2 linked regions of the Homo sapiens genome follow. The protein of the gene in region 1 binds, or shares a complex with, the protein of each later gene. Each region holds a gene or a part of one and is shown on either strand. Other genes may lie near its edges. The genes, in order: DVL2 and AXIN1. A codon is read from its position in the direction of its gene.

The links.
Region 2: the proteins of DVL2 (region 1) and AXIN1 are in contact, whole or in part, in a crystal structure (PDB 6JCK), measured with the Homo sapiens proteins. Residues at the interface, in NP_004413.1 of Homo sapiens: Lys15 (codon at 7,780), Ile17 (codon at 7,774), Tyr18 (codon at 7,771), Glu23 (codon at 7,756), Glu24 (codon at 7,753), Thr25 (codon at 7,750), Pro26 (codon at 7,747), Tyr27 (codon at 7,744), Leu28 (codon at 7,741), Val29 (codon at 7,738), Val46 (codon at 7,687), Leu47 (codon at 7,684), Gln48 (codon at 7,681), Arg49 (codon at 7,678), Pro50 (codon at 7,675), Phe81, Arg84; in NP_003493.1 of Homo sapiens: Arg821, Tyr823, Lys825, Lys826, Glu830, Phe831, Val835, Val836, Phe837, Glu838, Glu839, Lys857, Glu859, Asp862.

The regions. Positions count from the first base shown.
Region 1 is NC_000017.11:7,226,441-7,238,579, forward strand, and holds the start of DVL2 (segment polarity protein dishevelled homolog DVL-2), read right to left. Parts: upstream 8,078-12,139; 5' UTR 7,823-8,077; coding exon 7,629-7,822; intron 4,755-7,628; exon of another isoform or gene 4,441-4,754; intron 4,358-4,440; coding exon 4,288-4,357; intron 3,991-4,287; coding exon 3,845-3,990; intron 3,716-3,844; coding exon 3,606-3,715; intron 3,504-3,605; coding exon 3,368-3,503; intron 3,239-3,367; coding exon 3,148-3,238; exon of another isoform or gene 3,110-3,147; intron 3,008-3,109; coding exon 2,938-3,007; intron 2,835-2,937; coding exon 2,695-2,834; intron 2,606-2,694; coding exon 2,529-2,605; intron 1,605-2,528; coding exon 1,537-1,604; intron 1,344-1,536; coding exon 1,215-1,343; intron 1,096-1,214; coding exon 964-1,095; intron 830-963; coding exon 650-829; intron 519-649; coding exon of another isoform or gene 490-518; exon of another isoform or gene 447-489; intron 200-446; coding exon 1-199. Other genes in the region: PHF23 (PHD finger protein 23), read right to left, coding at 9,186-9,400, 9,490-10,327, 10,945-11,037, 11,189-11,220.
Region 2 is NC_000016.10:338,665-355,032, forward strand, and holds the start of AXIN1 (axin-1), read right to left. Parts: upstream 14,060-16,368; 5' UTR 13,771-14,059; coding exon of another isoform or gene 13,705-13,770; intron 8,443-13,704; coding exon of another isoform or gene 8,362-8,442; coding exon 7,484-8,361; intron 1-7,483. UniProt on the Homo sapiens protein: Component of the beta-catenin destruction complex required for regulating CTNNB1 levels through phosphorylation and ubiquitination, and modulating Wnt-signaling.

The sequences.
Region 1 (12,139 bases):
GCACTGCCCCCACCATAGGTGTAAGATGAAAGCTCATGGTAGGGTGGAGGCTGCGGGCTGTAGGGGTGTGGGGCAGGGTATTGGTAGGAGAAAGTGGGCAGCAGGGGCCAGGGGGTGGCCCCAGGCAGAGGAGCCAGGGTATCCTGGTCTGAAGCCCCACTGGAGCCATCGTTGTCATTGAGAGACAGGTTGACTAGGTCTGGAAAGCAAGGGAAGAGAGGAAGAAATCACTGCTTCAAGAGGCTAGGGCCCCAAGACACCGAATGGAGAGGAACTGGGAACAGTTCTCCCAGACCCACCCACGATGGGGCTCAAAACAGGGGTTCACAAGGGTCTCTGACAAGAAACTCCCATCTACTTCTGCCATGAGGGCAGGGGCACAGCCACTAGCCCACGTCTTTGCGGGACTCAGGTAAGAGGTGCACCTTCCCCCGGTGGACACAGTCCTGCACCTGGCACATGGCTTGTCCAGCAGCACATGGGTGGACGTCAGCCCCCATCCTCGGCCAGTGCAGGACCTAGTGCGGGACACACACTGCTCGACCATCCATGGTGGCCCTGGCTGCGGTTTCTGGGCTAGGTCTAGGGTTGGAGAGGCAGAACAAGGTAGGCAAAGCCACACTCCCAGAGTTGGGGCAGGGGGACTTACAGCTCTCACAGCCACCACTGAGGTCTCCGAAGACGTAATAGCACTGCTCAGAGAAGGTGATCTTGTTGACGGTGTGTCGGATCAGGCCTGCTTTGAGCAGCCCGCTGGCATACTTGCGGGCCTCCCGCCGCTCAGGAAAGCCCTCCACGTGATGGTAGAGCCAGTCAACCACATCCGAGCCTGGGAGCACCCACAGTGGAAAAAGGCCTCAGGTTCTTCTTCCAACTCCTGCTCTCGCCTCTGCCTGTGCCATTCCTGGCTTTGGTCACCACCTCCTCCCCTTCTCCAGCCACCTGCCCAGGACCCAGCCATACCCAGAAAGGCATTAGGGATGGTGATCTTGAGCCACATGCGGTCCCGGACTTCCAGTCCAGACTCTGGAGCTGCCATGGCCTTGGTCACCGATGCCATGTCCGTATGGACGGAGAGACCCCGGCCTTCACAGCCTGGCAGAGGAGACAACGGGTAACCAGAGTCAGGGATCGCTCCCACAAGGGCAATGGATCAGACCACTGCGGGACAGCCTTCTGCTGGGAGGGTGGGATGAGGTGGGCTGGCGGCTCACCATCAGGCAAAGACGATCCAGATGTAATGGTGCTCATGGAGGAGGAACCTGGATAGGCTGGGAAGGTGCCAGTCAGAGCCGCGGAATGGGACACCCAGGCAGCAGGGTCAATTGGCTGGATGGGCTCATCTGGGACAAAGATGGCACCAAAATGACCCATTCTCAGTCCCCAAAAGCCAGCCCAGTCCCTCCCTGACTCAGCCTCCTGTTCCACCTCTGCCTGGACCCTCCTCCCACCCATTCCCCATGACCACAGGCCCGGCCCCAGCCTCCTGGGCAGCCCCCACCCCCAACTTCAGGCCCCTCCCTGAGTGTCACTCACTTCGGGGGAGAGTGAAATAGGCCTGAGGAGAGGGATCCCAGCACTTGGCCACAGTCAGCACAATGGGGCTATGGGGAAGAGAAGTCCAGTCAAGGGCGCAGGGGAAGAGGAGGCCTCAGGAGGGCGGGGGTCTGAAGCAAGGATGGATTAAGAGACACAAAGAGGGGGAGAAGCAAGCACATCGCGGCTGGGCTAGAGAAGGTGAGGGTGGAAGGCACCACAATGTGGATGACTCATCAACATGGAAAACTCTTAAAAACATACTGCCAAGTGAGACAAGAGAGTACACGCTGTACAGTTCCATTCACAGAAAGTCCAAAAACAGGTAAAACGAAACTGCAGTGTTCAAGGATACGTGCAAGGGTGGTAACTATCCAGTGAGGCAAAGCTTTTCTTTGTTATGGTGATGGCCAAAGAAGTCAGGAGAGTGACTACCCCTGGGGCAGTGAGGCATTTGGGAGCAGGAAGGGACATCTGAGGAGGAAGTTCTAGGGTATCAGCAATCTCCTATTTGATGATCTAGATGGCAGTGACATGGATATTTACTCTAGTATTATTTGCTATGTCATGCATTTGTTTCATGTACTTTGAACGTTATGTCTTAGCACTTTTTTTTTTTTTTGAGACGGAGTCTTGCTCTGTCGCCCAGGCTGGAGTGCAGTGGCGTGATCTCGTTTCACTGCAACCTCCACCCCCCAGGGTTCAAGTGATTCTCCTGTCTCAGCCACCTCACTAGCTGGGACTACAGGCATGTGCCACCATGCCCACTTAATTTTTCTATTTTTAGTAGAGACACGGTTTCACCACATTGGTCAGGCTGGTCTCGAACTCCTCACCTCAGGTGATCCACCCATCTGGGCCTCCCAAAGTGCTGGGTTTACAGGCTCGAGCCACCACGCCCGGCTGTCTTAGTACTTATTAAAATTCCAAAACAAAACATGAAAGAGAAAAAAAAAGAGGACTGAGGACCGGCAACCTGCTTGGCAACTCACCCAGGCTTGTGCACAATGTCCCTCAGCACCCGCACAGCGTCATCGTTGCTCATGTTCTCAAAGTTCATGTCATTCACCTGGAAGCGACGGCAAGTGGGTCAGAGACACGGTGGGAGAGGCTGAGGGCCCCCGTGCAGGGCAGCTCAGTGGCCCTACCCCAGCACACCTGCAAAAGCATGTCCCCTGGCTCAATGCGCCCGTCGGCCGCCACAGCCCCACCCTTCATGATGGAGCCAATGTAGATGCCTCCGTCTCCCCGCTCATTGCTCTGGCCAACAATGGAGATACCCAGGAAGTTGTACTTCTCTGTGGAGAGAGGCCATGTGAAAAGAGGAGCCCCTGCCACAGGACGCCCGGAACCCTAGAGACCAGGCCCTCCCCACGCCCTAGCCACAGGCTCTCCCCATACCCATGTTTAGCGTGACTGTGATGATATTGAGAGACATTGTGGAATCTGTGACGCTGCTGAAGGATGACGTCTGTGGTGGGAAAAGGAGCCAGAGTGCCCTTCAATAACCCAGGGTCAACCCTGGGGTGCTGCCGGTGTCCTGGCACCGCCCAAACCAAAGCCCATGCCCCACCTTCTCCCAGCACCAGCCTTCCTGTAGGAACCCCTCACCCTCTCCAGGCGGGGTGGCCTCTGCTTCCTTCGCCGCCGGTGGCGCTTAAGGAGGCGGGAGGCACTGCTCTGCTCCGTGGAGCTGCTGAACCTACCAGGAGGTTGGGAAGGAGAGCAAACGTAGGCCAAAGTGGTCATGGGGCCAAGAGAAAGAACAAGAGGATTGACTGGAAGACGAGACGGGGCTGGGTGCGCTGGGGAGAGCTGTGCGGAGCCACACCTGCTCATGGTGTCCTCCTCGTCCGAGTCCCCCAGGCTGGTACTCTCCAGCTCGCTGGTCATGAGGGTAGAGGAGCTCTCGTATCCGGCCAGGTGGCGCTCCAGCCTTGAGGGGCCACCAGTCCTGTGGCCCCCAGCTACATATGGACAGGAAGCTCAAGAACCAAGCTTCCCCCTGCTCACCCCACCAAGGCTGGGGTCTGGCCCAGCCCTTCCCGGCCCCCAGGCCTGCCCCTCACCGCCATGCTCACTGCTGTCTCTCCTGCGAGGCCGCTCCCGCCTCAGTGACACTACTGACTCGGTTTCTGTCTCAGGCTCCAGATTCTCATGGCTGCTGGACACATTAGGGCTGGACAGGCAGAGATGGTTTCCAACCCACATCAGGAGAACAGGGCTCCGGATCCTAGGCGTCCCCTACCAAAGGCCTGGGTTCCCTCCTCACCTCCCTCCCCTGCAGTCAAGAATCTGAAGGACTCACTGGAAGGATGGAGGCCTTGAGTCCCCAATGCCGCTGGTCCTCTCGGGTGGCAAAGGAGGTAAAGGTGGGGCTGGAGGCGCCAGTTCTGCCCGAGGCTCATGGACTGGAGGGGCCATCTCGGGTTGGGGATTATCTGAGGACACCAGCTAGAAGGGTGCAAATGATAAACAGTGGCTCACTTGGGAGTCAGGGTGTGACAGGTGGCAGTAAGTGAAAGAATGAGAAAGGGTCTCAGAGAGCTGGAGAAGAGCAAAAAAACCTAGCAAGTATTAGAGACTCCAGAAGGAGAAGGCTGAGGGCCTCTCGCCGGCTCTCCAAACAGACAGGAGGTAAAGAGCCAGGGCTGCTAACGCGCGGCCTGGGGAGGATACAGAAACAGACTGAGGCTTGAGGGAGCTTGGCAATGCTGAGGGGGCCTGGTCCTCGGTGTCAGAACCTCTTACCCAGGATACCACCCTTCCGTTGAAGCAGGGGAGGCGGGCGTTGTCATCTGAAATTTCTTCCTTCACCACCCTGCCAAGCGACAAGGTAGAGGTCAGTGAGCTGGACCAACCATCCCCACCCCGACCCCCATCAAACTTTCTCCCAATCTTCACCTGGCTCCAGGATGTTGACTTTCTCCTGCCCTGTTCAGGTCTTCTCTTACATTGAAAGAACTCACTCCGACACCTAAGAAATCTCCAAACTCAATCCCCTTTCCTTATTTCTCCTCTCCCTAACGCACCCTCAGGGGCACAGTGCTGCTCCAAAGACTTCCTTGAGTCTGACTCAAACCTCTTAGTCCAGTTTCAAAAGCAATCCCGCACGCTGATGCGGCTGCCTGAGATACCTATCTAATGAGACTGGCTGGTGGCCTCCTCTCAACCCCACCCCTGTTCCTTACAAACCTTCCAAAAAGGTCAGGCACGGTGGCTCACACCTGTAATCCCAGCACTTTGGGAGGCTGAGGCGGGCGGATCACCTGAGGTCAGGAGTTCAAGACCAGCCTGGCCAGCATGGTGAAACCCCATCTCTACTAAAATACAAAAATTAGCCGGGCATGATGGTGGGTGTCTATAATCCCAGCTACTCAGGAGGCTGAGATGGGAGAGTCGCTTGAACCCGGGAGACAGTGGTTGCAGTAAGTCGAGATCGCGCCACTGCATTCCAGCCTGGGCGGCTCAAAAAAAAAAAAAAAAAAAACCTTCCAAAAAAGGCTTTGGTCCTCATCAAAGCCTCTACTCTTATACTTTCCTTTAGTTTTCTCTAATTCATTTCTAGAAGACTGTCCTTTCTTGAGTAAAAACACCCATTAGAGGCCAGGCGTAGTGACTCACACCTGTAATCCCAGCACTTTGAGAGGCCAAAGTGGGCAGATTACCTGAGGTCAGGAGTTCAAGACCAGCCTGGCCAACATGGTGAAACCCTTTCTCTACTAAAAATATAAAAATTAGCCAGGCATGGTGGTGCACACCTATAATCCCAGCTACTCCGGAGGCCAAAGCAGGAGAATCGCTTGAACCCAGTAGGCGAAGGTTGCAGTGAGCTGAGATTGCGCCGCTGCACTCCAGCCTGGGCAGAGTGAGACTCCACCTCAGAAAAAAAAAAAAAAAAAAAAACCACCCATTGGATCAAACAAACAATGGAAGTTCCTCATTAGACTGAAAGCTCCCAAGGAGAGGGCAAGCTGGGGTTCCCATTCCCCTGTGCCTCACTGGGCACAAAATTCTGCACAAAGCAATCTGCTCAACCTGACAGATCCCAAAGCCCAGCCTTGGGGTCATCTCTCCAATGGGTTCCCTGTGGTGGACCGGACTTGCCCCTTCTTCTTGACCATGACATCAAACCATGAACACTTACTCTGGTCAACACCATGTCCTAGCCACACACCACACACTGACACTTAAGCATTAACAAATACTGTCGACTAAATGAATAAACGTATAAAGCATCAGACTCTCTACCCTAGTTGTTCCTCTCTCTCTTTCCACACACAACCTTAGCCCCAAATTAGGACACCTTGTCTAATTAACCCGTTAGCCTAATATGGTCATGGGAGCCAGGATATATATCAACATAATCCATTTGCTGTCAACGTGACAACACAGCCCAGTCACTACTAACCCGTCTCAGCATAATGTAGGATTCTTCCCAACATAACACAATCTCAGCACAGCTTGGTCCACTCTGAGGCAAATTATTCTGTATCACCATAACCTACTTTACAGAGTGGTCAGCCTCAATGCTAATTACAATTACCATTCACCAAGAATTTCCCGTGTGCCACACACGTGAACTAACCATTTCATTCTGTGATTTTCTCCATGTCACAGATGAGATCAAGACACAAAATTTAAATAAATTGTCCAAGATTACATTGCTGACAACTAGAAAAACCTTGCCTTAAAGCCAAGATAACTCCCAAGATAGTATCAGCATCCCCATGTCAAACAATCTTTCTAGCTAGAGTCCAGTTTGTTCAGTTCTTCTAAAACCCATGCTATCCCAACTTAATCCAGCCTGCCTTCAAAAAAGCAGAGGTTGGGCCGGGCGCGGTGGCTCACGCCTGTAATCCCAGCACTTTGGGAGGCTGAGGCGGGCGAATCACGAGGTCAGAAGTCAGAGACCAGTCTGGCTAAAACGGTGAAACCCCGTCTCTACTAAAAAATACAAAAAATTAGCCGGGTGTGGTGGCGGACGCCTGTAGTCCCAGCTACTTGGGAGGCTGAGGCAGGAGAATGGCGTGGACCCGGGAGGCAGAGCTTGCAGTGAGCTGAGAATGCGCCACTGCACTCCAGCCTGGGCGACAGAGCGAGACTGTCTCAAAAAAAAAAAAAAAAAAAAGCAGAGGTTGAGGACCCAGAAGGCTCAGCCCCAAAGACCATAAACACAAAAGGGCTTTCTCTGCATTATTTACACGCCAATCTAGTCCAAGATAGCCCTGAATGTCCCAAATTACCCTAGGATAGCCCAATCTATTCTAGCACAGCCTACAATGCCCCCACACGCAGCTGTCTGCACCAGTCTAGATTGGAACATCCCAATACGGCTGCCTGTGCTAGCACAGGCCCCAACAGCCTTGTCTGCCCCTATACCGAGTGCTCCAATAAAACCAAGTCTTGCCCCAAGAGAAACCAGGATTAACCAATACAACCCAGTAGAGTCCATAATGGCCCAAGTGTTTTTTGTTTTTTTTCTGAGACGGAGTCTCGCACTGTCGCCCAGGCTGGAGTGCAGTGGCGCGATCTCGGCTCACTGCAACCTCCGCCTCCCAGGTTCAAGAGATTCTCCCTGCTTCAGCCACCCAAGTAGCTGGGACTACAGGCGCGTGCCCCCACGCCCGGCTAATTTTTTGTATTTTTAGTTAGTAGAGATGGGGTTTCACCGTGTTAGCCAGGATGGCCTCGATCTCCTGACCTCGTGATCCGCCCGCCTCAGCCTCCCAAAGTGCTGGGATTACAGGCGTTACAGGACTCCTGAGAACGTACTAAACAACCAGACAATGGATCAATTTACTCAGTACAGACTAGAATACTCCAACATAAACCAGTATGCCCCCACCTATTCCAGTAAAGCCTAATCTTGTCTAATCTGGTTTAGGATATCCTAGTCTGTCCGTGTGCCTCAATCTATCCAAGCATAACCTTGTCCATCCTGGGATAGTCAACCTACCTCAGCATAGTACAATCTGCTCCACCATAGGCCAGAAAATCCCAGTGTGGCCCAAAGTAGACGTGTGCCCCTCCATGTCGCCCAATCCACTCTAGCAAAGCCCCCGCCGGTCCTATCTAGGCCTTGCGCTCACCCGAAATCCTGATCCATAGACTTGAAAAAGTACTTGGCGCCCGCGGGCCGCTGCAGGACGCTCTTGAAATCGCCGAGGGTGATGCGCTCGGCGGGGACAGGGATCTTCACCAGGTAGGGAGTCTCTTCCTCATCCAGGTGGTAAATCACCTTCGTCTCCCCAACCCCACCGCCCCCAGTGCTGCTACCCGCCATGGTCTCGCCCGCGCGCTCCCGGGCTCCACCGCCCACCCAAAGGGCTAATGGCCCCTGCCGCGCCTGCGCACACCCGCAAACCGACGCGCGAGCGCGGACAGGACTGACCCAGTACGGGAGAGAAGCAAAGGGGAAAAAGCACGGATCTGCGAGGGTGGCGGCGGGGGGCGGGCCGCGGGGTGCGACTCAAAGCCCCGGTCTCAGCGGCCGCCGCGCGCCACCGCCACCGACGCCGCGAGCTTCCTCCAGGTACCCGCCCACCTCTCCTCATGTCACGTGACTTAAAGGCAGCCACCCCGCGCTCCTCAGCCGCCCTCCGTCACGTGATCCCCTCCCAATCACGTGACCGTCTGACTCCGCCTAGTGCCCCCGCCACATGATCGCTGCCTTCAGCAACGGTCTCCCAGCCCCCAAACGTGTACCCCAGCCGAGGTCCTCTGAGCACCCAGGCTAAGCTGGCCTGTGCCTTCAGGAAACGGACCATCGGCTCCCACCCCGCTTTACCCCACCCACGATGGAGCACGAAGCAACTCTGACCCGCAGGAGTGTGCGTGCAGGGAGTGAAGGTGGGGACTGTGGGGGTTCCTAGACTCGAGTGGGGAGGGCCAAATACAATGAAAGCTCTAAGGTGGCTTACTTGTCTTGGGGTGGGAAAGGCCCAGTGCTGTGATATCTTCAGATTGGACTTTGAGACGTGGGTTTCAGCCCCACCTCCAGCTAGTCTTCAGCCACCAAAGCCTCCCTCCCGAGCAGGACAGTGAGGGCTATAAACACAAAAGAGCCCACTCTGCTTTATTTACAACACGCAGGCTGTCTGTACAAACAGCGGCCGATATTATTAAAAACAAAAGAGGTGAGTGAGAATCGTCACCTTTCTGCTTTCCTTCCTCACTTGGCCAGGCTCTAGTACTCCACCTTTGAGCTGCCATGCCCAATAGGGGAAGTCCAAAATTAAAAATACAACCGGTGTAGAAGAAAATAAATGGGGAGTGAAATAGAAGAAAAGATGAGGGAGGGGAGTGCTAATATTTACACTAGAGTTTTATAGACAACTGTCCCATTCCATCCCAATTCCAATCCTGACCCAGAAAGTGATGGTGGCAGGTCCAAGAGACAGAGATTATGTGTCGGGACACAGACAGCCTCCCATCCCCAACCGTAATGGATTCAATTTCAAGTCCACAGAGTGGGGAGGAAGGATAGGGTGGGAAAGTGAGACACTCATTTTCAAACAAGTCTCCCTTGAGAATTCCTGCCTTGAAGTGCAGACAGTATCCAAGCTCCAGGGGATAGGCTGAGGACCCTGAGGCTCAGTTCCCAAATCATGTTGTCATTTGGAAGTTCCAGGCTAAAGTTGGTGCCATCAGGGCTCTCCAGATTTGGGAGGCCCCCCTAACCGCCGGGCCTCTGGCCTCAGTTCCTTGCATTTCTGGCAATAAAAGAAGTCGGGGACGTTGGTCTTCTTAATCTTAGCACAGGAGAGGTGGATCCACGTCCCACACAGGCTGCACTCAATCATGGGCCGCCCTGCAAAGGGCTTTCGACAGTAACATGTGATCAGATCCCATGAGTCATCACCTGGGGAAAAAAAGGTTTGTTTGGTATTCTGCCTGAGCTGTTGGATCCACAACACCCTCAAACCCCTCGCCCCAGCCCGAACCTCTCACCTGATTCTACCATGATGTCCTCGTCCATGACCCGCATCTCGCCTTCACTGGAGCTGGCATCTCCATCTTGGCTTGTTTCAGTGCTGCCCACCTCCTTGCTTTCACTGTCAGCAGGAGGGACTCCTTCAGGGTGCACTGTGGCAGGGGGCCTAGGAGCCTCAGGGGGTGTTGGCAGCACAGGGACTGGGGCTTCACCCCCTACCACTGTTGCCATCTCTTCTTCTTCTTCCTCTTCCTCCTCTTCCTCCTCCTCTTCAGAGTCTGTATCACTGGGGGGTGCCTGGGGAGGCCCAGGAGGTGGGAGTCTATCCCCCCGTTCTGCCTTTTTTAACTTCCGCTTCTTGCTCTTCTTGATTCGAGATCTCTTTTCCCCATCCCCAGGAGTTGGCCGAGGCCTCCGAAGCACCCCAAAGCCAGCCCCAGCTCCTGGCCCCAACTTTCGGTTCTTTCGGTCCTTCTTTCGAGGAGGATGGGAGAGGTCCCCCTGGGAAAGGGGCACGGGGGTAAGAGCAGCAGGGGGCCGGGAGGTATGTGTCAGGGATGTGGGGGACAAAGGAGATGCCACTTTGGGCCCATCCAGATCAAAGAGAGAGTCCTTGAGCTTCATCTTCTCAAGCAAGGTAGCACTGTCGGGGGCCTGCAGACGAGAGAAAGTGGACCTTGGGGGTCCTGGCTGGGTGGGACCTGCTTGAGCTGCCCTTCTCTTGGATGACTTTGCTTTCTTAACAAAAGTCTGGATGGTTCGAAGATCTGAGGGGGCCGAGTCCCAGCCATCACTGTCGGCCGCACTCTCTCCTCGCAATGGAGAGCTGGAGCCAGAGGCTGGCCAGTCACTTTCCTTAAAAGGGGGAAGAGACCAGGGTCAGCAGAACCCCAGTGTCATCTCAGCCCCTCCACAAACCCAGCTTGAAAAGGAGTGACTGGATTTACCCCAAAATGTCCTACCTCAACCACTAAATCCCACTGTACTCCAAAAACTTCTCCCCACCCCAATTCCCATCAGCATGTCCTCTTGACCAGTCCGTGTTACCTCTACCCTCAAGTCTGACACCTCACCGCTGCCCCTGCCCAGGGCCTGTGGAACACTGTATCACCCAGACCGGAGCCGTTATGTCCTTAGCTCTTTTTCTGTATAGCCTCATTTGTTACCATTTTCATCTCCCTAAAATTTATCCATAAACACCTTCCATTCACAGCACCTCAAGACTATGCCAAAATCTCAACCAGCGACTCCAAATCCCCCTTCCTTTTCACTGCTGTTCAAGCTAGCTATCCCGGCCATCCACTCCCCGCATACCAGCTTTCCTACCACAGCCCTAAGAGTCTCCAACTTCCCTGGTCTTACATATAATTTCTAAGGGCCTCCTTCTATAAAGCAATACAGTTCTGTTTGAACAACAGTCACTCTATAGTCCCACCACACCAGCCTCAAGTCAGTAATTCTCTTGCCCCTACCTCTTTGCTAGGGGGAATGTAACCAGCATATGCCAAAACAAAACTGCAGAATTTGTTGAAATCCTCAATTGTTCTCCGCCGTTTCTCTGGTGGCTGAAAGGAAGGAGATATGGATCACATGCAAAGCCACACAGTTTAAGAATGGCATTCCCAGAAACACAGTCCCTAAGTGAGGTCTAGAAAAGGGGGGCGGGGGGCGTTGTCAGGCAGGGCTACTAGGCTGCAAAGGTAAGGCAAACCTCACCTGAGTCTCTGGCTTAAGGGTCGGAGGTGGATCTGGAAAAGCAATAAAAGCTGAGTCAAGACACTAGGAACAATCTGTGTAAAACTCCCCCTCTAAACCCCGTTGTTCCTAAGTGAACCCCCTGCTCTCCCAGGTCCCTCTGCCAGGCCAGCAGGCCCCCAGCTGTGTTGGATCCGCCCCGGCTCCCCCTTCCGCCCCGCGAGGGGCGGAGCCTGGGCGCGGCGCCCTCTGAGGCCTCGCTATAGCGCTCCCCTTCCCCCAACCGGAGGCCCGGCGCCCCGCCCCCCCAACTCACGGTCTCTCTCGACTCCAGTCTACTCGGATCCCTCAGCGCCCCACCCCACCGTACCGCTCCCGGGGCCGCGTCCGGGCCGCCGCCAGCCGCCCCCGTCCTTCACACGCGCCCGGAGCCCCGAGTTCCTACCCGGCCGCGCTCCACCGCCTCGGGCCCTCCGAGACCGCACACGCCGCCCGCCAGCCCCCAGGGTCCAGGATGACCACGCCGAACCGCTCCCCGCCCTCCGGCCCCTTCTACTCGAGCACGCGGCCCGGCGCGCCCCTCACCCCCACCCCAGACACACACAGGCACACGCATCCAACGCTACTTCACGGCCGGGACAGACCCGGGAGCTCTAACCCGGACGCGGCCCCCACCTGCCCCCCCCCCCCCGCCCATACCGCGCTCCCCACAATTTCGCCGTCCCTCCGCCCCCATCCGGGGCTTTGGCCCCTCCCCGTCTCCAGCTTTTCGGGCTCCCCACCGGGCCCCCCGGCCCTGTTCCTAGCCCTCTCCGGCCGCCGCCCCCCCCTCCGCCCCCGTACTCACCACCCAGTTACTAGGCTATGGACCCCTCAACTCTGGCCCCTTCCCCCCAACCAGCCACTCTCTCTCTCTCTCCACAGCAGCCACCGCTGCTGCCGCCGATGCCCCCCTCACCCTCAGCAACTCCC
Region 2 (16,368 bases), on another chromosome or scaffold:
ATAATTCCAGCACTTTGGGAGGCCAAGGTGGGCGGACCACTTAAGGTCAAGATTTCGAGACCAGCCTGGCCAACATGGCGAAACCTTGTCTCTACTAAAAATACATAAAGTAGCCAGGAGTGGGGGCATGCACCTGTAATCCCAGCTACTCGGGAGGCTGAGACTAGAGAATCACTTGAACCTGAGAGGCAGAGGTTGCAGTGAGCTGAGATCGCGCCATTGCACTCCAGCCTGGGTGACAAGAGCGAAACTCCATCTTGGGGAAAAAAAAAAAAAGTGGGATGCAAGCTGGTGCTGTGGGGACAGAGTCCAGCAGAGCACCAGCAGAGTCCAGCAGAGTCTGGGATTACAGGCATGAGCCACCGTGCCTGGCCAGGAATCATTTTTAAAGTTTTCCTTGGACATCCACAAACAAAAAAAATTTCCCTTTGGGCAGGGTGTGGTGGTTCACACCTGCAACCCCTGCACTTTGGGAGGCCGAGACGGGCAGATCACTTGAGGTCAGGAGTTCAAAACCAGCCAGCCTGGTCTCAAAAAAAAAAAAAAAAAAAAAAAAAGGCCGGGCGTGGTGGCTCACACCTGTAATCCCAGCACTTTGGGAGGCTGAGGTAGGCGGATCACAAGGTCAGGAGATCGAGACCATCCTGGCTAACAAGGTGAAACCCCGTCTCTACTAAAAATACAAAAAAAAAAAAAATTAGCCGGGCGTGGTGACACGCGCCTGTAGTCCCAGCTGCTGAGGAGGCTGAGGCAGGAGAAGTGCTTGAACCCAGGAGGTGGAGCTTGCAGTGAGCCAAGATTGTGCCACTGCACTCCAGCCTTGGCGATAGAGCGAGACTCCATCTCAAAAAAAAAAAAAAAAAAAAAATTAGCCAGGCATGGCGGCAGGTGCCTATAATCCCAGCTACTGGGGAGGTTGGGGCAGGAGAACTGCTTCAACCTGGGAGGCGGAGGCTGCAGTAAGCCGAGATGGTGCCACTGCACTCCAACCTGTGTGACAGAGCAAGACTGTCTAAAAAAAAAAAAAAATTCTCTTCAGATCTGCTCAAACAGGGGAAGCAAATACCCCAAAGGAGACTAGAAACCCCCCACACCCAGGCAAGGGGAGCCCACGCAAGGGGCAGTATGGCTCACAAGCACCTCTGCCCCCTCTGCACCACAGCAGAGGTCCCCTTAACAAGACAAGCCTGGGGGCGACCCCACCCTGGGCCACACCCTTTGCACAGGAAGCAGAGTTCACCCTTGCAACACAGCCCCTCTGCAGCCGGGCACCTTCAACAGCACCACCGCCTGAGGTCCAACGGACATGGAAACCCAAAACCACTCCTCCACAGACAACTCTGTACACATTTTGGGCCCTTTCTTTTTCTTCTTCTTCTTCTTCTTTTTTTTTTTAACCATTTCTTCTCTTAACCTTTTAGGCCATTACCAGAAACACAGTCAATAAACTAATGAGCAGGTCCGACGGTTCCTCACGCACCCCTGCGGGAACCTGAACGGCAAGGGCTGGCTGCCCACCTCGAAAGGACCCACCGGTCCTCTGAGCAGCTCCAGGAACCAGCAGCCCAAGACAAGCCACCATGTTGCTCCTGCTGTGGACATGTCTGTTGTCCACTCTCTGGCCACAGCCACATTGACCAGCCCTATCCACAAGTGCATCACTGGACTGGCCCGGGAAGACACACGAAAATATCCAGGAAGACCCTGTCCCCAGTCATCAAGGAAGGTCAGGGCAGTCAACAGAAGGGGCCAGCGGCGAGGAGACTGCGGGCTTGACCAAGCGGACCTGGCAGGGGCATGCAAGGCCAGCCCTGAAGGCCACCTGGTGGGCCAAGCCACCCTGAAGGGAAGCAGAGCCTGAGCCCGCCAGCCAGGGAGTGCAGGCCCTGGGCCTCCCGCCCAACACTCAGTCAACAGCAGAACCTGCCTGCTGATCCACACCGCTGAAATGACGAGGTGAACCAGCCAGCTCTGTTCAAAGTTCCACTGACAATGGGAACAAAGACCCGAGGGTGCAGAAAGTGTTCCCACAGAGGCAGAGCGGGGGAGCCAGGGAGGAACCCCATGAAACCTTGGCCCAGGAGCTCAAAATGACAGTGGGTGAGTGGGACAAACACAGAAAAGGGCCAGGAATGGAGCTCTTTCCTAGGCTGAGACAAAGACCTAAGCAGAACACTTCACTTTCCTCAAATCAAGTATGTGAAACCACCACGCGGCTCACACACGGACCAACAAGGACCCGCACTCAGGCGTCCCACAGGGGAACTGGATGCCTGTGGCCGTGCTGGACCGCAGCAGCCCCACCGCAGGGGATGAGCGACTGTGGCAGAGATGCAGGCAAAGTAGCCTCCAGGACAGAGGGGTCAGCACCCGAGGGCTGGCCCTCCTGGCACGTTCCTCCACGCAAATTCCACCCCGGTGAGAGGTGACAGCGTGCTGGCAGTCCTCACAGCCCTCGCTCGCTCTCAGCGCCTCCTCTGCCTGGGCTCTCACTTTGGTGGCACTTGAGGAGCCCTTCAGCCCACCACTGCACTGTGGGAGCCCCTTTCTGGGCTGGCCAAGGCCGGAGCCGGCTCCCTCAGCTTGCGGGGAGGTGTGGAGGGAGAGGCGCGAGCGGGAACCGCGGCTGCATGCGCTTGCAGGCCAGCTGGAGTCCCGGGTGGGCGTGGGCTTGGTGGGCCCGGCACTCAGAGCAGCCGGCCAGCCCTGCCGGCCGCGGGCAATGAGGGGCTTAGCACCCGGGCCAGCGGCTGCGGAGGGTGTGCTGGGTCCCCCGGCAGTGCCGGCCCACCGGAGCTGCGCTCAATTTCTCGCTGGGTCTTAACTGCCTTCCTGCAGGGCAGGGCTCGGGAGCTGCAGCCCGCCATGCCTAAGCCCCCCACCCCCTCCGTGGGCTCCTGTGCGGACCGAGTCTCCCCGACGAGCGCCCGGTCCCATTGACCACCCAAGGGCTGAGGAGTGCGGGCGCACGGCACGGGACTGGCAGGCAGCTCCACCTGCAACCCCGGTGCGGGATCCACTGGGTGAAGCCAGCTGGGCTCCTGATTCTGGTGGGGACGTGGAGAACCTTTATGTCTAGCTCAGGGACTGTAAATACACCAATCGGCACTCTGTATCTAGCACAAGGTTTGTAAACACACCAATCAGCACTCTGTGTCTAGCTCAGGGTTTGTGAATGCACCAATCGACACTCTGTATCTAGCTACTCTGGTGGGGACTTGGAGAACCTTTGTGTGGACACTCTGTATCTAGCTAATCTGGTGAGGATGTGGAGAAGCTTTGTGTCTAGCTCAGGGATTGTAAACGCACCAATCAGCGCCCTGTCAAAACAGACCACTGGACTCTACCAATCAGCAGGATGTGGGTGGGGCCAGATAAGAGAATAAAAGCTGGCTGCGGGAGCCAGCAGTGGTAACTCGCTCGGGTCCCCTTCCATAGTGTGGAAGCTTTGTTCTTTCTCTCTTTCCAGTAAGTCTTGCTGCTGCTCACTCTTTGGGTCCACACTGCCTTTATGAGCTGTAACACTCACCGCGAAGATCTGCAGCTTCACTCCTGAAGCCAGTGAGACCACGAACCCACCAGAAGGAAGAAACTCCGAACACCTCCGAACGTCAGAAGGAACAAACTCCGGACAGGCCGCCTTTAGGAACTGTAACACTCACGGCAAGGGTCCGCGGCTTCATTCTTGAAGTCAGTGAGACCAAGAACCCACCAATTCCGGACACACCGGGACGACTAACCGGCTCTCCACAGGATATGCATCCCCTAACACGTGAGGCCTAAGCTCCAGGCCCTGCTGTGGTAGCAATGCTCACCAGCCGCCTGTTCAGTACCCACTCTCCTTTTCCCTTTGCATTACCCGCAGCCTTCCTTTGGAGGACTGCCCCCAGCTCCCCACTGGGGAGCAGCCGTCTGTCTGGGTGGAGAACCCACTTTCCTTCAGGAGTGACCCTGCTGCACAGCCCCCAGCGCACGCACCGTGACTGTGCTGAGACAGACGGGACACAGCGGCACACGTGCCCTCCTCAGAGCAACAGCGGGCCCATCCGTCAGAGCTGCGGGAAGCATCTGTAAACAAGGGAGCCCAGAGCCCAAGGTCACTGCAGCAGCCACCTCCAACACAAAGCCCACGAAGTCGCCCACCAGGCAGGCAAAGTCAGAATGGCACAAAGCAAAGGTGCCAGGCCCTAAGGCACACCTGAGGCTCTGCCTCAACAGTGCCCTTCAGGGTTGGGCTCAGGTGGGTGGGTTTCCACGACTTCCAACCTAGTGCACCCTCACCTACACCTGGCAGGACAAAGAGAATGGTCTAAATGTGAGGAACGCAGCCTGGACTTCATGCCCTGTCTGTGCTGACAAGCAACCATTCCAACATCAGAGATCTTCAAGCCACAAGGCTGCACCACAGGCCACCTCCCACAGAGAGGATTCAACCGCAGACACGACTCCCAAGCCCCAGGGTCCTCTGCCACCAGCAGCCCCAGAGCAGTCAAGTTAGGACCCAAACTGTGTAGACAGAGCTACACAAAATTAGACAGGAGAAGCCAATGTATCCCACTAATTTCATAGCAAAGGTTCCTTATTACAAATACAGCAAACCAAGGACAGACAGCAAAGCTACTGCTCGCAGCCAAGAACTGAAGAGTGGCTGGGAGGGAGGCACTGGGGTTCCAACAGTGGAAATCAGAACGGAGCTCATTTTCCTCCTGCAGCCCAGCCCTCAACTTCAGTCCCATCTTAAAAATAACCAGCCGGGGCCGGGCGCAGTGGCTCACACCTGGAATCCCAGCACTTTGGGAGGCTGAGGCGGGCAGATCTCTTGAGGAAAGGAGTTCGAGACCAGACTGGCCAACGTGGTAAAACCCCATCTCTACTAAAAATACAGAAAATTAGCTGGGCATGGTAGCTCACACTTGTAATCCCAGCTACTCGGGAGGCTGAGGCAGGAGACTCACTTGAACCCAGGAGGCAGAGGTTGCAGTGAGCTGAGATTGCACTACTGCACTCCAGCCTGGGCGACAGAGCGAGACTCCATCTCAAACAAAAAAACAAGCAAAAAAAATAACCAGCCAGGTGCAGTGGCTCCCACCCGTAATCCCAGCACTTTGGGAGGCTGAGATCACTGGAGTCCAGGAGCTCGAGACCATCCTGGCCAACGTGGCGAAACGCTGTCTCTACCACAAATACAAAAATTAGCCAGGCATGGTAGCACACACCTGTAATCCCAGCTACTCGGGAGGCAGGAGAATCACTTAAACCCAGGAGGCAGAAGTTGCAGTGAGCCGAGATAGCGAGATAGTGCTACTGCACTCCAGCCTGTGTGACAGAGCGAGACTCCATTTCAAAAAAAAAAAAAAGAAAGAAAGAAAGAAACTCTCAGTTTATACCAGGCTTACTCAACAGGATAACTTTGCGGCATATTGTGTCCTAAAATGCTTGCTAAATAAATACCACTTGGCTAAAGACAATGAACAAAAGGGAAAAAAGGCCGGGCGTGGTGGCCCACGTCTGTAATCCCCGCACTTTGGGAGACTGAGGCAGGCGATCACGAGGTCAGGAGATCGAGACCATCCTGGCTAACATGGTGAAACCCAGTCTCTACTAAAAATACAAAAAATTGGCCGGCATGGTGGCGGGCGCCTGTAGTCCCAGCTACTTGGGAGGCTGGGGCAGGAGAACGGCGTGAACCTGGGAGGCGGAGCTTGCAGTGAGCCGAGATGGCGCCACCGCACTCCAGCCTGGGCGATAGAGCAAGACTCCATCTCAAAAAAAAAAAAAAAATTAACCAATTAACCTACACAATCCTTTTTTGTTTTTTTTTTGTTTTTTTTCTGAGACAGAGTTTCACTCTTGTCCTCTTGTCGCCCAGGCTGGAGTGCAATGGCACAACCAAGGCTCACTGCAACCTCTGCCTCCCAGGTTCAAGCGATTCTCCTGCTTCAGCCTCCCGAGGAGCTGGGATTACAGGCATGCGCCAACTCGCCTATCTAATTTTTGTATTTTTAGTAGAAATGAGGATTCACCACGTTGGCCAGGATGGTCTCGAACTCCCGACCTCAGGTGATTCGCCCGCCTCGGCCTCCCAAAGTGCTGGGATTACAGGTGTGAGTCACTGCGCCCAGTCGACAGTCCATCTTAAATCGTATCACTTAGACTACAAGTTTAACCTTAGACATGTTTAATCCTGTGTTGATGAGCGAGTAGCCAATTTCTGTGTCACAGTAAGCTTGAAGAACTAATGCGAGTTTTTAATAACTCCTCAGGAGAGTCCCAGCACATGGGGCTGTGCTTTCGGAGTCTTGATTAGGTCAGCAGGGGTCACATGAATTCCAGGCTTTCAAAGTTACACAGGCCGGAGCCTCCGGTCACCAGCTCTAGGGAAAGAGTGGGAAATGCATGCGCTCTGCTCACAAGCACAGTAGATGCCAGCCCGAAAGCCAAATAAACCTCCAGGAACCACGCAGGGATCACAGGGAAGGAAGAACGAAGAAACAGGTTCCAAGGCTGAGCACCACTCTGCTCCCTCCCAGGCAACACACGCACCCCACAGGCCCTGCCAGGATCGCCTCAGGGTCCAGGCTGCTGTGGACTACACAACAGCACCAACAGATTTTGTTGGCAGGAAAAAAGGCCCAATCCTGGAATGCCCACTATAGCCACAGGAAGTTTTCAAAGTACTCTGACCATTCCCCACACGTAAAACGTCCCCCCTGCTATTTCTCAGCCTGTAGGAAGAAGCTTAGAAGATCATTATAAAAGCAATAATCTGGCCGGATGCGGCGGCTCACGCCTGTAATCCCAACACTTTGGGAGGCCGAGGCAGGCAGATCACCTGAGGTCGGGAGTTCGAGACCAGCCTGGCCAACATGGAGAAACCCCACCTCTACTAATAATGCAAAATTAGCCGGGCGTGGTGGCACATGCCTGTAATCCCAGCTACTCAGGAGGCTGAGGCAGGAGAATCGCTCAAACCCGGGAGGCGAAGGTTGCAGTGAGCTGAGATTGTACCATTGCACTCCAGCCTGAGCAACAAAAGTGAAACTCCGTCTCAAAAAAAAAAAAAAGCAAGAATCCAATTCTCCAATTCTTATCGATGCCCTGAAACGTCCACTCCTCCCTTTATTAAGCGGAAAGGACCATGTCTACTGGGTAGATCCAGCTCCTATTTAAGAGGTGACAGACTTTACTGCTGAAGGGTAAAGTTTACATGTCATTGTGACTTCTAAGAATTCCGATGTTCCTAATGACTCATAAAGTCATATATTTTAGTCTGTTCTCAGTAAAAGTGTTCTCAACATTACAAATATAAAAAAGTAATGACAAATGCAAAAGTATCACAAATAAGAACAGAACCAAAATTCAACCCCAGCGGCAGCAGGACATCCGGTGTGGGTTAACGCCCGCCTCATCAGCACCTTTCCCTGGCTTGTTCTCCAGCTCTCGGAGGTGAGTACAGAAAGTGGACGCCTGGCGTCGGACTCACCTGAACTCTCTGCCTTCGCTGTACCGTCTACTGGAGGAGACCCTCGGGGCAGCTGTCTCCAGGAGCAGCTTCTGAGGGAGTCTTCCGGGGGGAGCAGCGTCTCTGCCATCGTCCTCATCCATGTCCTGGTCACACTTCCATTCCTCATCTTCATTTAAGGTCGGCAGGTATCCAGATATGCCCTTCCCTGTCCCTGACCCAGAGCTCTGGTCACTACAGACTTTGGGGCTCTCCGAGCCTGTCCTCGTATATTCCAAATAAATATCAGACTTAAGGAAGGAGGGATAGGTGTTTTCCTCCATAGTGGCCTGGATTTCGGTCTGGGCCTGGTCAAACATGGCAGGATCGATCAGCTGCTTCATGATGCAGCCCTTTATGAAGCTCTTGGTGGCTGGCTTGGTCTGCCGGGACACGATGCCATTGTTATCAAGAATGTACTTTCGGTAGATGGCTCTCGCCAGCTTCAGCCTCTTCTCCTCGTTCGAGTCACAGGGCTCCAGCTTCCTGAAGCCAGTGCAGGCAAACCAGAAGTCCAGCAAGTCGGCACAGCCCTCCTGCTTCAGGAAAGTCCTGAACAGGCTTATCCCATCTTGGTCATCCAGCAGGGAATGCAGTGACTCAGCCCACTTCAAGTATGGTGGGGTGGGGGAGGCACTGCCCTCAGGCTCATACCCCAGGTCCAGATCCGAGCGCCTCGGAGTGGCCGTCGAAGTCTCACCTTTAATGCCAACACCTTTCCCGGAGCAGAAACTGTAGCTGGCGGGCCTCGGGTCTGTGGACACCAGTTCTCCCTCCTCACCAGGCACTGGGGGTCGGGGAGCATCTTCGGTGAAACTTGCTCCGAGGTCCAAGGGGAAACCCTGCTCTTGGATATTCATTTTGGGACTCTGCGTCAAGGAACAATGAGCGCTGCACCCTAATACATCAGTACTTACAGCTCCAAAGTGAATCAATCTGTCCTGTTGAAACCATTAAGAGGACAAGGATTAGGAAAGGTGGGTCCATGAAACACGACCAGAGGTTTTCTCAAGACAAGACTCACGATGACGCCCTCCCGCTCAAACTCAAAGCAAGAAACTCAGTTTAAATGTTCAATCAAGATATATTTTGGCCACAAGCATAGTTCTACTTTAAAGCAATTTCTGGAAACTTTTACAACTACAGGAATGCCTCTCATGCTAAGAAGGGATGCCCAGGACATGGGAATGCCACTCCCCACAAGTCTCACTGCACAAACATCACGGAGGCTGGCAGCTTGAGCACCTCCCACCTCAGCTGCAGAGCTGAGGGACAGGGAAGGCAGGAAGACCGGAGGAAGGAAAGCTGCCTCTAGTCCTGACTATGTGTACAAACCTGAGTGAGGGCTGGACCCTCACAAGTAAGATGGAGACAATCGCTCCACCAGCCCCAGCAACACTCAGAGAGAAAGGAAGGTGCGCTACAGCCCCGAAGGTGGTGGGCGTCTTCTGAACCCCACGTCCTCCAGGCCCACGGCCACTGTTTTCTACCTGCTGCATCACGTCACGCGTGGTACACCTTCCGACACATGAGAACACACTGCAGGGTGTTCCTCCGACTCTCAACACACGCCTCAAAGAGAGATAATCATGGGTCACCTTCAGCCCCATCGACCGAGGGATCAAGGACACCACCCAGGCCCACAGAGGCGCTCGGACACCGTCACTGGAGACAATCTTAAAATGCTCTGTCAGAATGCTGCACTTGACTCTGAAAAGCCTCTCTGATGAGGATTCAGATAGCAAATAGTAAATGGGTACTTCAAGGAACAGAGAAGGTACAGAATAAAAGGAAATGCAAATACAATTTTTAGCTAAGGAAGCTATAGTTCATGTGACTTCACTCCTTAAGCTGAAAACCAAACCACCCACCCTCTTAGACATCAGGGAACTATAGAATTTGCTGCTACTACTGCTGCTGCTGCTACAAGCCTGCAAGGGGTGTGCAAAAGAGAGTAGATAAGGGCTCCAACAGAACCCCTGCCATGGTCTATGGTCCTTCCTGCCACGTCCTACAGGAGCCCAGGAGCTCTGGCTATGCCTGTCAACCCGGCCATGCAGGTGACTGAAACAACAGCCTGCCATGATGTAAGTGGTCCTGGCTAAAAGGGGCTGGAGAGAGGGCTTTAGAGAAGCATGTTGGGTTCAAAAGCCTAGAGTGCTGAACAAGTCACAGCAAACAAATAAAACCCTAAAACCCAGGACCAACTGAAGGGGGATCTATCCCCCAGCCACCACTCCACACTGCTGTCCCTTGTCTATGTGGAATCTGTCCCCCACACCAACTTCCTCACATTGCACACACTTTACCAGCCAACAGCTGCTCACGGCTGGAAGCACGAAGGATCCACAGAGCCAGGCGTGGTGTCACGCACCTGTAGTCCCAGCTACTCAGGAGGCTGAGGCTGGAGGATCCCTTGAGCCCAAGAGTTCAAGACTAACCTGGGCAACATAGTGAGACCCAATCTCTACCAAAAAACAGTTCTTAATTAGCCGGGTATGGTAGCGTATGCCTGTAGTCTCAGCTACTTGGAAGACTGAGGCAAGAGGATCACTTGACCCAGGAGTTCAAGGCTGCAGTGAGCTATAATCGCACCCCACTGCACTCCAGCCTGGGCAACAGAGCAAGATCCTGTCTCTAAAAAAAAAATAGGCCGGGCACAGTGGCTCACACCTGTAATCCCAGCACTTTGGGAAGCCAAGGCGGGCGGATCACGAGGTCAAGAGATCGAGACCATCCTGGCTAACACGGTGAAACCCCATCTCTACTAAAAATACAAAAAATTAGCCAGGCATGGTGGTGGGCACCTGCAGTCCCAGCTACTCGGGAGACTGACGTGGGAGAATGGCATGAACCCGGGAGGCAGAGCTTGCAGTGAGCCGACACCGCGCCGGCCACTGCACTCCAGCTTGGGCGACAGAGTGAGACTCTGTCTCAAAAAAATAAAATAAAATAAAATAAAATAAAATTAGTAAATAAATAAGAAGCACCCATAGATGGAGGATGGTTTGCAACTATGTGCCCCCAATGACATTTCAGCAGCTAAGGACTTTTTGTGAACGCTGCTGGGTAGTATGTCATCTTGGCCTCAGCAGGAACACACAGCTTCTAAAGGTCAAGGCCCAGTGAGCTGTGACATCCTGCTGCTCACAGACCACTTCAGCGGCAGTCACTCCGTGAGCCACATCAGCATGGAGGGAGCACCCTGGGCGTGGGCACCTCCACACTAGCTCACGGTCATCTGTCTGGGACGCCATCACAGGAAAGAAGGCCTGCACCCTGACCACCTGAGCCTTACCACTATAGATGTACTACCATTCACTAGCTTGAAGAACCAAGTCACCGGAGAGTGGAAAGTGATTAATCAGACAGTGCTCAGAAGGGAGGCTAACCACAAGTCACCATCATGCTCTCATAAGGGACTTAAGTCTTCTGTGTTAATTATTGGTAGTAGCGGGACCCACAGCACCCAGCACAAGGTCCTGCAACTAACGGGCACCAGTAAGTCATTCACTGATGTAAAAAAGAAAAGACATTTGTCACAGACGCCAAACACTGGCTCTCTACAGGGGCTGAACTACTGTACCACAGAAAACAGCAGCAAATTCTTCCAAAACTAATGGGTTTTGTTGTTTTGTTTTTTGTTATTTTGAGACAGGGTCTCGCTCTGTCGCCTAGGCTGGACTGCAGTGGGGCGATCTCAGCTCACTGCAGCCTCAGCTTCCCAGGCTCAAGCAATTCTCCAGCCTCAGCCTCTCAAGTGGCGGGGACTACAGGCACGAGTCATCAACGCCCGGCTAATTACTGTATTTTGGGTTTCACCACGTTGGCCAGGCTGGTCTCAAACTCCTGAGCTCAAAGCAATCCACCCGCCTCGGCCTCCCAAAGTGTTGGGATTACAGGCCACTTTGCCTGGCCCCAAAACTAATGTTTTAATTCATGTGTGAACCAAATTTTCAGAGCCCAGAAGAAAATTTTCTTACAATCATGTGTATTTTTGGCTGTCAACTGACAGAAGACTTTTTGGTGTCCCTGGAAGCACATGAACCCCTCTACAAGCTACTGATGTTGTTGAAACATGTCCCAATTCCTGAAATCTCTGGGTTCCCACAGGGAAGCACACCAAGCATTTAGTGTACACACAAGTACACACCACACATAAAGCAGTCACGTTTACTCAGTTCAGTATCAAATGCCTGCAAGCACTGAATCTGGCCCACAGCCTGTAGCTACCATCAATAAAGTGAGTCCATAAAACGGGCGGGATGCCTACAAGTATGATACTGTATTTAAAATTCCCTTTCGTCACCGCTTAGGCATATGCTCCAGGCATCATGGCAGCAAACTCAATGCTACCTACGTGTGTAGGTATTTATTTTACCCAAACGTAACTTTTGACATTTTGATTTACATGGAGGAGGCAAGTAACACAACACGACTCTGACATCTTCCCAGCTGTCCATTGATTTAACTCTTGAAGGTTCAGGGCTACTATTTCACATGTAATTTATTCCCCCATCACTGAAATTCTCAATGACCAATGTAATCCGAAAAAGTCTGCTTAGCTTTTCTGAAACTAGAAACCCAAGACAAGTCAACACCAGCTGAAAATCAAACAAAAACAGTCTGTTTTTCATGCTTTCCCATCCTTGTCCCTGAATGGAGATCTTAAAACTGAAACCAAAGCCAGGTGAGGTGGCTCACGCCTGTAATCCCAGCACTTTGGGAGGCCGAGGTGGGCGGATCACCTGAGGTCGGGAGTTCAAGACCATCCTGACCCACATACAGAAACCCCATCTCTACTAAAAATACAAAATTAGTCAGGCTTGGTGGCGCATGCCTATAATCCCAGCTACTTGGGAAGGCTGAGGCAGGAGAATCGCTTGAACCTGGGAGGCGGAGGATGCGGTGAGCGGAGATCACGCCATTGGACTCCAGCCTGGGCAACAAGAGCAAAACTCTGTCTCAAAAAAAAAAAAAAACTGAAACCGAGCTATTGCTGAGTATCTCGGGTAGCCGGTTTAGACTGTGTTTTCTCCAAAATAGGGCCTGTGGATCCAAGTAAGCTCGAGATTCTTCCTGAAGAAGCAGAGAACAGAAGTGTGAGCAAAAACAAGGGGCTGACATGCACATAAGAACCCTTTATAAATTATCTTAGAAGGGGCCAGGCGCGGTGGCTCACGCCTGTAATCCCAACACTTTGGTAGGCCAAAGTGGGCAGATCACCTGAGGTCAGGAGTTCCAGGCCAGCCTGGTCAACATGGTGAAACCCTGTCTCTACTAAAAATACAAAAATTAGCCGGATGTGGTGGCGCATGCCTGTTATCCCAGCTACTCAGGCGGCTGAGGCAGGAAAACTGCTTGAACCCGGGAGGCGGAGGTTGCAGTGAGCCAAGATAGCGCCACTGCACTCCAGCCTGGGCTACAGTGCGAGACTCCGTCTCAAAAAAAAAAAATTATCTTAGAGGACGGTGGTCACCCCTGTAGTCCCAACACCTTGGAAGGCTGAGGCAGGTGGATCGCTTGAGGCCAAGAATTCAACACCTGCTGGGCAATATAGTGACACCCCATCTCTACAAAAAATATATATATATATATCTTATAGATGGGCTGAGAAAAATCCCCAGAGAACTGACATGTTTTTCTCTACTTTCTTCAATGCCAAGCTGAAAGTTTCACTGCTCGGGCAGTGCAGCTCTGGTTTCACGGGGGCTAAATTCCAAAGTGCGGGGCGGGGGTAGAATCTAAGAACCACACCCAAGAGAAAGACCAGTGTTTGGGCAGCAAGGCATCAACCTGGAGGGTACGGACGCCGGAGCACGCGGCTACTCAGGCCGAACCCCGACCCGGACCCGGCACGCGGCCTCGGCGAGGGCGGGCGGGAGTGTCCTCCTCCGGGACAGCCGGACTCCCGCCGACTTCTGGGCGGCGGGGAGGGCTCCAGGCCCGGCTCTCCCGGGCCCCCGCACGCGATGCGCGGCCCCTGCAGCTGCTCCGTGCCCCGAGACGCGCCCGAGGCCTCGGACCTCCAAGCGGCCACCGCGCCGCCAGTCCCGCTGCCCAGGGACACCCCGGCCCCAGCTCCCCGCGCGCCCACCCCCTCGGTCCCACGCGCGTCAGCCACCCGCGCCCCCCGCCGCTTCCGGGTCCCGCCCGCCCGGCCTACCGCGGCCTAGCCCGCCCCGGAGCCCGGCCCTACTCACCCGCGCGCGGTGGTGGCGGGACCCCGGGCCCGGCTCCCGGAGCGGCGCGGCGCGGTCCGGGCCCATGCGCTCAGCGGCAGCGCGGCGGGCGGGACCCGGCGGGGGCGCGGCCCGGGGCGGCCCCCATCTCGGCGGCTGCGGCTCGGCGGCCCGGAGGCGGACGCGGGGCAGGCCGCGGGGGCGCCGCAGGGGCCCAGCCGCCAGCTCCCACCCGCCCGCTCCGCGTGGACGCGGCTCCGGGCCGACTCCGGCCGGCTCTGGCGGCGGCAGCGGCCACGATCGCCTCCCGAGCCAGAGCCCGAGCCAGAGCGCCGAAGCCCAGGCCCGAGCGCCCCCGCCGGCGGCGTCCGGAAGTGCGGGGGCGGGGCCGGGGCGCGGGGACGAGGTGAGAGCGCGGGGCGGGGCCTCAACACGGGGCGGGGCCGGCAGCGCGGGGACGAGGTAAAGGGTGTGGGGCGGGGCTTCAGGCGCGGGGCGGGGCTGAAAGCGCGAGGATAAAGTGAGGAGCGTGGGGCGGGGCCGACAGCGAGGGGACAGGTGAGGAGCGCGGGGCGGGGCCGGGGCGTGGGCGGGGCCGGAAGCGAGAAGACGAGGTGAAGAGCTCGGGGCGGGGCCTCGGGCGTGGGGCGGGGACCAGGGAGTAAGGCGGGGCCCGCCTCGAGCAGAAGAGGTAAAGAGCGTGGGGCGGGGCCTCCGGCGCGGGGCGGGGCCGGAAGCGAGAAGACGAGTTGAGAAACATGGGCCGGGGTCTCTGCATGGCCGGGAGAGGGCGTGGTCAGTGCCTGCCGGGGGCGGGGCGTGCCGGGGGCGCGGTCGCGCCGTCTTCCCGAGGGGCGGTGCGGAAGCGGAGCCCGGGAGGCTTTGGCTTCCCAGAGAGCGGAGTGGGAGAGGCGGCGTTGCAGGTCCTTGGAATGGCCGCGGCCGTGGGGAGCACTGGGCGGACTGCGCGCCCCGAAGGGCGCACGTGGGGCGCAGCCCTTTTCTGCCGCCAGTACATCGGAGGGCAGTCAGGGGGCTGCAGGCCTCGGGGCTCCCTGCCCAGCCGGCCCTGGAGAGGAGGCCCTCGTGGGGACCGCCACGGCCTGCCCGCCGCCGTGAGGGAAGCAGGCTCCCAGGAGTGGGGTGGTCGGCAGGCAGGGATGGCCAGGGCCCTTGGAAGGTGGGGTGGGCTCCACCCTCCTGAGTCCCAAGGCAGCCTGGACTCACAGCGCCAGGGAACACGTTAGGCCCCAATATATGGTGGCTCTCACCCGGACAGGAGCCACAACCTCCAAAGAGCCCACCGGCTAGGACCCTCTGCCTTGATTTCTCCCAGGCACCATCTAGTATCAGAGAAGGGTTCTCCTTCCCTCCGCTGCCCAGGCCAGCCCGAGAGCAAGGCCATTGGAGTGTCCAGACCCCTGCACCCCTTCCCCTGGGCTGTCTCCACAGCGGCCCTGCCAAGGGGTCCAGTCCGATCCTGCCACCCTGGCTGCCCAGATCCGTGTCACTTGCCCTGCAGGCCACAGAGCATGAGGTCACAGCCCCAGGCACCCCACGGCAGAGAGGCACGGGCCCCCAGCAGCAGCCCCAGCACCAGCTCTGGCCAGCCCAACCCTGTCAGAACCAACCCTCTGCTCTCCACCCAGGCCTCAGCCAACCATCAGGCCCTCCCCAAGGAGGAGGATGTGAGTACCAGGATCTGCCGCCTCCCACAACAGCCCAGGGCCCTGTCCTTCCCAGAGCACTATTGGGCCTGGCACCTCCCGGGATGCTCCAGGCAGCCCCCTGGGGTCAGCTATACCCCCGTTTCACAGAGGAGACAGCTGCAGTTCAGGCCACACAGGACCAGCTCGCCTCCTGTTGGGTGAGGGCTCCCCACCTCGTCCGCCCCACACCTGAGACAACAGCCCTCATCTATCTGCCCTCTGCTTTAGGCCTCCCAGGGCTCCCTGCTGCCCACAGCCCTTCAGGGCCCTTCCTAAGGGCGCCTCCCCCACACCTTCCCCTAGATGCGTCTGGCCACTTGCCCGCCTCCGTGCTTCCGTGTCCATCATGTCCATACCTGCCAGCTCCCTCCAGGCACCTCTCACGTCACCCCCATGTCTTTCCCTGGGCTGTGTCACCCTGGATGCCCAGCCTCACCCTTCAGAGCTCCCAGGCAAGCACAGAAGTCCCAGCTCCAGGCTCCCCGAGCTTCCAGCCTACCCCCAACCAGATGCCCACAGGTGGGACTGCATGGGGAACCATGTGTGGAAGCCTCCCAGCCCTCGCCCCTGCCAGCACTCAGCATGGTGTCTGATGCCAGCATCGCTGTGTGGGAAAGGGGGTAGCATGGGACAAGGGCCACTAGGCTGTCCCCAGCCTGCCAAGGGCCCAGGCCCACCTCCCAGGGCCATCACTGTGCTCAGAGCAGGTGGGCAGGGGCTGGGGATATGAACGAAGCTGCACTGTTAGACCAACACCTGGCCCCGCTGGGTCCTGGCCGCAGGCACCCTGCCAGGTCCCACAGTGCTGGACACTGGGGCCTCCCCGCAAGCCCCCTAGCCCATTCAGCCTCAGAACCTTAGAGGAGACAGAGTGGGTGGCCTCCATGGTAAAGCACAGTTTCCAGGGATGAGGGAGTCCTGGGTGGCCAGACAGACAGCAGGACCTCAGACACTGGCCCCTGGGCTGCCCCCCGAC